Linked DNA regions of Homo sapiens: region 1 is reported to be linked to region 2. The links are microRNA targets in miRTarBase. Many come from high-throughput screens and were not tested one by one. Region 2 holds a microRNA gene; the other region holds the end of a gene's coding sequence.

Evidence for each region. The annotated mature microRNA hsa-miR-3936 reads UAAGGGGUGUAUGGCAGAUGCA and lies in region 2 at 2,840-2,861, shown strand. An mRNA with a match to its seed (bases 2 to 7 or 8) in the 3' UTR can be bound and repressed. Matches are read on the target gene's strand: a 7mer-m8 pairs with bases 2 to 8, a 7mer-A1 pairs with bases 2 to 7 and ends in A, and an 8mer does both.
Region 1: miRTarBase lists SMYD5 as a target of hsa-miR-3936. Seed matches in the 3' UTR shown: 7mer-m8 at 3,511-3,517 and 7mer-A1 at 2,669-2,675.

What each region holds. Positions count from the first base shown.
Region 1 is chr2:73,225,416-73,229,803 of GRCh38, reverse strand. It overlaps SMYD5 (SMYD family member 5), which reads right to left. Exons shown (of 13, transcript NM_006062.3): 12 at 4,103-4,173; 13 at 2,583-4,008. The coding sequence ends at 3,858. It overlaps PRADC1 (protease associated domain containing 1), which reads left to right. Exons shown (of 5, transcript NM_032319.3): 3 at 234-343; 4 at 842-1,009; 5 at 1,230-1,794. The coding sequence ends at 1,350. Among named protein-coding and RNA genes, the nearest start is that of PRADC1, 5.6 kb to the left of the region's middle.
Region 2 is chr5:132,363,986-132,368,373 of GRCh38, reverse strand. It overlaps MIR3936 (microRNA 3936), which reads left to right and starts at 2,775; the gene lies at 2,775-2,884. MIR3936HG (MIR3936 host gene) reads left to right here. Exons shown (of 8, transcript NR_110997.1): 2 at 1,593-1,806; 3 at 3,347-3,439.

The DNA.
Region 1 (4,388 bases), not on the chromosome of region 2:
GGATCTACAACCAAGTCCCCTGCCTATCTCATAGAAGGGTAGGGTGGTGTAGGACAACCAGATAGGCCTTTGCGAGAATTAAGTAAAAATGTTTAAGTGTCTGGCGATACAGAAACCACTCCATGTTTCCTTCACACTTTATAAGGTGCCAATAAGATGGGATTGTCAGCCCAGTCCTAAAGCAGGTGTGTCTCATTACACTCTCACCTGTCCAAATGTTAAATGTTTTTCAGCACACAAGGTATGAGCAGATTCACCTTGTCCCCGCTGAACCTCCAGAGGCCTGCGGGGAACTCAGCAACGGTTTCTTCATCCAGGACCAGATTGCTCTGGTGGAGAGGGGGTAAGGAGTGGGCAGGCAGGACACGAGGAGTGGGCAGGCATACGGCAGATTCTGAGATTATTGGTAGTAGTGCTTTGAAAGAGCTGTTTTTGAAAATTTCATCTTTTTAAGCGTCTTTAAGAAATGTCTAGCCTGGGCAACATGGAGAAACCCTGTCTGTACAAAAAATACAAAAATTAGCTGGGCATGGTGGTGCACACCTGTGGTCCCAGCTACTCGAGGCTGAGGTGAGAGGATTGCTTGACCGCATGTTAAGGCTGCAGTGAGCCGAGATCACGTCACTGCACTCCAGCCTGGGCAACAGAGCAAAACCCAGTCTCCAAAAAAAAAGAAAAAGGAAAAAGAAATGTATTTAAATTATCCATGCTTTTAGCTATTTACTTATGAGCCTTTATAACAGATTCTTCATAGTCTGCCTTCTATACTCCCAGGGTGATGGTCTGGGGAAGGGGGAGCTAGGACCTGTCTTTCCTTTGGTCTTATCACCACCTCTTCCAGGGGCTGCTCCTTCCTCTCCAAGACTCGGGTGGTCCAGGAGCACGGCGGGCGGGCGGTGATCATCTCTGACAACGCAGTTGACAATGACAGCTTCTACGTGGAGATGATCCAGGACAGTACCCAGCGCACAGCTGACATCCCCGCCCTCTTCCTGCTCGGCCGAGACGGGTGAGGGCTCCTTGCCTCTGGCTTTATCAGCACCAGGCTGGGCGCCATGACTGGGTCAGGGGTAATCACCAGTCCCTTCTTGCAGGCCTCAACTTGGGGTGCTTCAGTTAGAGGGCAAAAAAAGATCTCGGGCTTTGGAACTCCCAGATTGATGGGGACAGTGGGGCATGATGGGGTACCAAGAAAGTGACCGTCACCACCTCTCTTCATGCCCTCCCAGCTACATGATCCGCCGCTCTCTGGAACAGCATGGGCTGCCATGGGCCATCATTTCCATCCCAGTCAATGTCACCAGCATCCCCACCTTTGAGCTGCTGCAACCGCCCTGGACCTTCTGGTAGAAGAGTTTGTCCCACATTCCAGCCATAAGTGACTCTGAGCTGGGAAGGGGAAACCCAGGAATTTTGCTACTTGGAATTTGGAGATAGCATCTGGGGACAAGTGGAGCCAGGTAGAGGAAAAGGGTTTGGGCGTTGCTAGGCTGAAAGGGAAGCCACACCACTGGCCTTCCCTTCCCCAGGGCCCCCAAGGGTGTCTCATGCTACAAGAAGAGGCAAGAGACAGGCCCCAGGGCTTCTGGCTAGAACCCGAAACAAAAGGAGCTGAAGGCAGGTGGCCTGAGAGCCATCTGTGACCTGTCACACTCACCTGGCTCCAGCCTCCCCTACCCAGGGTCTCTGCACAGTGACCTTCACAGCAGTTGTTGGAGTGGTTTAAAGAGCTGGTGTTTGGGGACTCAATAAACCCTCACTGACTTTTTAGCAATAAAGCTTCTCATCAGGGTTGCAACTGTGTCCTAGAATAAGAGCACACGGGTGGGCAGGACCTTCAAACTCACTCGTATCGTCCCATACTGTCGTTCTGAGGAAAGGAAACACCCACAGAGGACAGTGACTGGCCTAGGTCATTTGGGACCAGTGCTCAGACTGCTAGTCTTAGATCCCAGCACAGCTTCCTGCTAGGAGCCAAGGAAGCCCTGGGAAGCCAGAGTTCAGCCCCTCAGGAGAAGACTCATCTTAGAGCCTGGAACTGGGGGTCCAAACTGGACCTCAGGGCTAGGCATGGTGGCCCATGCCTGTAATCCCAGCACTTTGGGAGGCCGAGGTGGGAGGATCAGTTGAGGCCAAGAATTCAAGACCAGCCTTGGCAACAACATAGCAAGATCCCATCTCTACAGAAAAATTAAAAATTAGCTGGGTGTGGTGGTGTGAGCCTATAGTCCCAGCTACTCAGGAGGCGGAGGTGGGAGGATCACTTGGGCCCAGAAGTTCAAGGCTGTAGTGAGCTATGATTGCATTGCTGCATGCCAGCCTGGGTGACAAGGTGAGACCCTGTCTCAAAATTTAAAAACCACCCAAACTGGACCTCAGAGGACCCTTGCTCTTGGGCATTAGAACATTTGCATAGCAGGGTGTAAATAACAGTAGAGGTGAGCCCAAGCTGGTGAGCCTGGAGCTCCCATCTCCTACCATTACCTGGTCTAATTGGTATTCCTTTGCACCCACCTGTGCCTGCTGCACGCCCGGGGCAGCCTGCCCAGCCACTTGCCACAAAGCATTCCTGCAGAGGCCTCTCACCACTCACATTTTATTGAGAACAGTGGGCAGGGGGGCTGGGAGAGGAGTGCTGACCGTTGTGAAGGAGTAAGAACCCAATGGGTAAGGGGCCAGACAGGTTTCACCTGGCTCCATGGTCCAGGAAAGGGCCTGTGGGGTGGGCACCTGCCCTCTCTGGGATCCCTCAGCAGGAGAATGCAGCAGGCTCCTCCAGGAAAGGGAGGCATTGGGAGTGATGGGTTGTAATTCCCATAGCATCCAACCCAAGAGTGAGAGGGGTGGTGCTAATCTGGGGGTAGGAGGGGACAAGACAGGGCTACTCTCGAAGTATCTAGCCCAGCTCCTCGAGGTTTCTGGAAGACTTCAATGTTAGTCTGTGGAGACCCTAAAGATGGAGATTGAGGCCAGGAGAGCCCCTCACTGACCCATTTTAACTGGCCCCAGGAATACCAGAGCATCCTAATCTAAGGAGCGCAGGCCTGTCAAGCCCCAGGTCTCAGCCATGCTGCTGAGTGCTCATTGGGAAGCAGGTGTGAGAAAGGGTGATGACCCACTATGTGTCCCTCCTGAGGAAGGCAGAGGCCTTTTCCATACTCCATAAGGCCAGCCACTGTGCCAGGTCCTGAGAGGCAAGGCACGAGTCTGGGGGAGGGGTTAATCTCCACTTCCCCAGATGTCCAAATGGGGGTGTGGGTGGGGGAAGTAATCCCCCTGGTCCAGCATTCCCAGGAGACAGCCTCAGGGAAGGGGCTCAGGATGCCCAGATCCTCCTGCCCGCCTCTGCTTGCTGGGCCAGTGGTCAAGCAGTTGCCTTACCAGCCACAGCTGTGGTGGGGGGAGGTGAGGACGCCTCACCACCTCCCATCTCTGCTTCAATGAACTCGGTCTTTCTTTTACCCCTCAAAAGAAATCAACAGCAAGTTGAGAGGGGAGAAGCCTCAGGTGAAGGGGTGAGTATGGGCCGTGGGGCCGAGGGGAAGAAACACTGTTAGGCCCTGGCCCTGATTCCAGCCCCTCAAACCCTAGAGTGGAGGAACCTCAAGGGGAGGCCAGTTGTGAAAGGCTCAGTGCCAGTGCAGAGTCTGAGCCAACTCAGCAGCAGTGTCCAGGGCATGAGGTCTGGTGGGGGTTGGGGCCAGAGATCCAGGCTCTCTCCTACCCTCTAGCAGAGAGGGCTGGAATGGGGAAAGCAGGCAATGGGAGTGGGAAGTTCCCTCCAAGCCACTTCTCTGGGGGAAGAGCCCCCTTTTCTGGCAGGGTCTAGGGCAGGGCCCTTTCTGGGCAGGGCAACATCACACATCAGTCATCTCATCCCCCAGCTCTGCATCTTCTGGCTCTCCTTCCTCCTCCTCCTCCTCTTCCTCTTCCTCTTCTGAGGTCACATTGGGTTCATCAGCCTCTGCCAGGCATTTGGGACAGGAACAGACAAATAGATAGTTCTCCCTGCAGCGGTGGGGGATGGTGAGGGGGAAAAGTCAGGGAGCTATGGGTAGAGGACCCCAGAGCCCAGCTGCACAACCATGTCCCCAGCTGGCACCTGAGGATCTTGTGGCGGCTGTGGCGGCTGCGCTCCCGCTGACAGCAGTCCAAGTAGCTGATACAAATTTCCTGTAGGGCAGAGAAGTGCAGTCTGATGGTCTGTGCTCTTTTAAATGGCATAAGGACCTCCCCAACAGCTACCCTATCTCCAACCACTGCCCCATCTCTAGGAGCCAAGTTTGCGTTGCCCTTCAGTGAAGGGGCTGGCTGCCCTCATCCAGTTCCCAGTGCCTTCAGTAGGCAGGCCACTATAAGGCTCCAACAGCCTGTGCCTGAGACAGAGG
Region 2 (4,388 bases):
CCTGTGTTGCCCAGGCTGGTCTCAGACTCCTGGGTTTAAGCAATCCTCCCACCTCAGCCTCCCAAAATGCTGAATTACAGACGTGAGCCACTATGCCTGGCCAGACTCATTTTTTAAGTGCTCAGTAGCCACATGTAGCTATTGGTTATCTTATTGGACAGCACCATTCCTAAGGCCTTTAAGAATTTGGGCTGCTAAACTTAACAATGCAAGATATTCCTTTTTAAAATAGTAGTGGCTTAGTGATAGAAACAGAACTAAGTGTATATTTTTACAATATAATGTGTTGAGTAAAGAATATTTAATAGTCACTATATTATGAGTTGAAAATAAAGCTACAGAAAGGGAACCTAACCTGGCCAGCAGATTTTTAACAAGGAAATCTAAACATTTGCATAAAGCATAATAGACTTAAAAAAATTATGATAAAGATGTTATCACAGGACTTGTTTGTTTCTTTATACTTACTATTCACTATTCTTACTTCCTGAAGATGGATGGTTATACCTTCAGCAATGTACTTAAATCCTTCTAACATCTTATGTGAAGTTATAGTTCTTATCTAGAACTAACTGAAAAAGAAAGCAAAGCTTCTTGAAAATAAACTCCTTTTTTGTGTGCTAAAATATTATTTTAATGCTTCAAAAGAAATGAAAGCTTTTATGAGAAGAATGTTGACCTCTGTCCAGACCAAACAAGATGAAGAAGTCTTATTTTAACATTTGAGAAATATCAGTTGGGCATCAGATAACATTCCTGAAAGGGACTGAAAACAATGCAGTATACTACAAAAGAAGCTGCATATCCTTAGGAAGAAAAGAAACTATTTGTCATAGATGGCTTGTCCACATGCGCAAAGCAGAGAGCAACCTAAGATGGTGCCGTCCAGTTCCAGGTGCACTGTGATTACTATCTGAATGCCATTACTATTTAAATTGCATTTTTTTTTTGAGACAGGGTCTCCTTCTGTCACCCAGGCTGGAGTGCAGTGAGGTGGTCTTGGCTCACTGCAGCCTCAACCTCCTGGGCTCAAGCAATCCTCCCACCTGAGCCTTCCAAGTGCCTGGGACTACAGCCACGCGCCGCTACACCCAGCTATTTTTTTTGTATTTTTGGTAGAGACAGGGTTTTGCCATTTTGGCCAAGCTGGTCTCAAATTCCTGACCTCAAGTGATCCCCCCGTCTTGGCCTCCCAAAGTACTGGGATTATAGGTAGGAGCCACCATACCCAGCCTTAAATTTCATCTTTTAAAAGAGAAAGAGAGCTTAGAATCTTAATCAGTTACCTGAGGCCCTTTATCCTGCAATATTCTGAATTGGGATGTTCCTATTTTACATATTAAAAAATGTAAAACTGATTTATATGGTAGATAACCCTACAGTTCAGGGCTAGAACTTTAGATTAAATGCATTCATACCCTGGCAGATGTGGTAGCTTGCCTCCAAGATGGCACCCAATGAATGATCCCTGTACCAGGATTGGTCTATGTGACCAAAAGCATACAGCATTAGTGATGATACTTATATCACTTGGGTAATTACATTATAAAAGATGTCCATCATGGGTGTTCTTTTCCCTTTCTCTTGCTCAGAGACAAGCAAGCTGTCATGTTATAAGCAGCCCTTTGAGGGGTCCATGTGATGTCAAGGAATGAAGTCTCTAGCCAACATTTAATGAGGAACTGAGGCCCACCAACAACCTTGAGTGAGCTTGGAAGTAGCTCCTTCAGCATCAGTTGGGTGTCGAGATGACTACTGACAGCTTGACTGCAACTTCATGAGAGTCTTCTGGACCAGAACCACTCAGTTAAGTGGCTCCCAGATTCCTGATCCTCAGAAACTCTGAGAAATAATGAATGTTGGTTGTTTTAAAATGGTAAATTTTGAGGTATTATGTTATGTGGCAATAGATAGCTAATATATAAATTATTTGAATCAAACAATACGTTAAATTAAAGCTCAGAAGAATAAACATCTGTAATTCCTTAATTTGTTTTCCCTTCTATTCTACAGAATAGAATTTTACAGATGAACCTTGTAGTTACTTGTGCAATAAGAGACAGTATGTTGTATTGATTAAGTGCAGAGCCTCTGGATGTATGATAGAAGAAAGACCAATATTCAATTGCTTTCTTCTTCAATTCCAAGCTTGTGAGCTTGAGCAAATTTTAAAAGTGTTTTAAGCCTCAGTTTCCTGGGATGGTAGTGCTTAGCTCGAGCTCCTAGCATATATTAACTACAAACTAAATATTAGCTATAATTATTAGTTTTACTTTGATTATTGACTCTAAATAAATACCTTAAGAACTTTGTGTTCTCCACAGATTTGGATATGTCTGGACGTTATGTAGGCTGGAGTAGTCAGCAATTACTTGCCTGAGGAAGGGAAGGCCTCCTCCTTTAAGAAAAGAATAGGCTGGGTGCGGTGGCTCATACTTGTAATCCCAGCATTTTGGGAGGCTGAGGAGGGTGGATCACCTGAGGTCAGGAGTTTGAGACCAGCCTAAGGAACATGGTGAAACCCTGTCTCTACTAAAAATACAAAAATTAGCCAATTGTGGCACGCGCCTGTAGTCCCGGCTACTCAGGAGGCTGAGGTGAGAGGATTGCCTGAGCCTGGGAGGTGGAGGTTGCAGTGAGCCGAGATCGCGCCACTGCACTCCAGCCTGGGCAACAGAGTAAGACTCCGTCTCAAAAAAAAAAAAAAGAAAGAAAGAAAAGAGTAGAAGGCCCAAGCTTAGTCCAATATTATAGCTTCAGCATCAGAGTAGAGAATGATTCAGAGCATCTGTCCAGTGTCTGCTGTAGATCCCTCAAATCCGTGTTTGGACGCTTCTGGTAAGGGGTGTATGGCAGATGCACCCGACAGATGCACTTGGCAGCAATAACTTATGCATACCTGAAGAATGACCCTATGGTCTAAGAAGAATGTGTGTTCAGAGCTCCAAGCTAAGGAATCTGGGAGTGGCCAACCCAGATATTTCATTTCTTATCTATGACGAACTTCTGAACTGCTCCCACCCCCAGCCCATCCTGTAGAATGCAGGCCCTACGAGGCGATCAAAGCCCTTTGTTTTAGGTTAAATGAAGGTTGCCTGGTGGAGGTTGCTAGGGGAAAGGTGTTAAGTAAAAATGTTATATAAACTGCATGGTGTTTTTTGTTTGTTTTTGTTTTTTTGAGACAGAGTTTTTGCTCTTGTTGCCCAGGCTGGAGTGCAATGGTGCAATCTCGGCTCACTGCAACCTCCGCCTCCTGGGTTCAAGTGATTCTGCTGTCTCAGCCTCCCAAGTAGCTGGGATTACAGGTGCCCACCACCAGGCCCGGCTAATTTTTTGTATTTAGTAGAGTCAGGGTTTCCCCATGTTGGTCAGCCTGGTCTCAAACTCCTGACTTCAGGTGATCCACCTGCCTCAGCCTCCCAAAGCGCTGGGATTACAGGTATGAGCCACCACGCCTGGCCAATTGCATGCTTTTTACAAGGAGTTTTGGTTCTCCTGCCCAGCCCACTGCCACTGGACTGCCCTGTATTGTAAGTCCCCTCAATAAACCTTATGTCTCAGTTTCTGGTTCTAGGTCTCTTCTTCAGCCTCTTGAACATGGTGCCATCCCTACTGAAGTCAATGGGGTCTGACATGACTAGGGGAACTTGAACAAAATCTGAAATAGCTGTTTTTTTCTTGCCAAAATCACTGTAAGACATTATTTGCCTCAGCCCCAGAACATTGAATTATATGACCCAAGAGTGGAGAAACAGAGAAGTCTGTCTGTGTCATCAGACAATATCCCAAGTGGGATGTCATCACCCCAATGCATATTGGCATTTGGGCAGAGTAGAGCAGCGTCAGCCTAGCAAGACTTGGCACAATTCTGTTGGATTGCACAATAGAATGAGAAATCACATTTCTGCTGTTATGTGATTCTGCATTTTAACTCCAGTTTGTTTGGCCTGGACAGACAGGTAACTAGCCATGAAGACAATGGACCTTGAAACATTCTGAAGACTAGAAAAAGTATGTAATAAAATACTTTGAACAACTGTTTAAGGACTTAAATGTCCAGACTGTTTCTTTAGATGAGTGTAATTTCCAATGTGAAACCCCACAATTCGGCTTCAAGAGGTACAGGACAGTTTTTGAATTCCACAGAAAAAATTTTGCATTGCAACAAACTTGACCATCCTATTTGTGGTAGTAGAAATGTAAATTCATTCCCCTCAGAGATACCTGCAAAAATGAAATGTGAAATATTCTGCTTGCATTTTAAAGACTGGTTATTGCATTCTAGAATAGATGGAAAAGACATTAGTGAGGGCCAATATAGAAATATGAGTTTTCCCAAAAGACTTTTATGTATATATATGACATGGCAGGAAAATTGGGTCACTAGT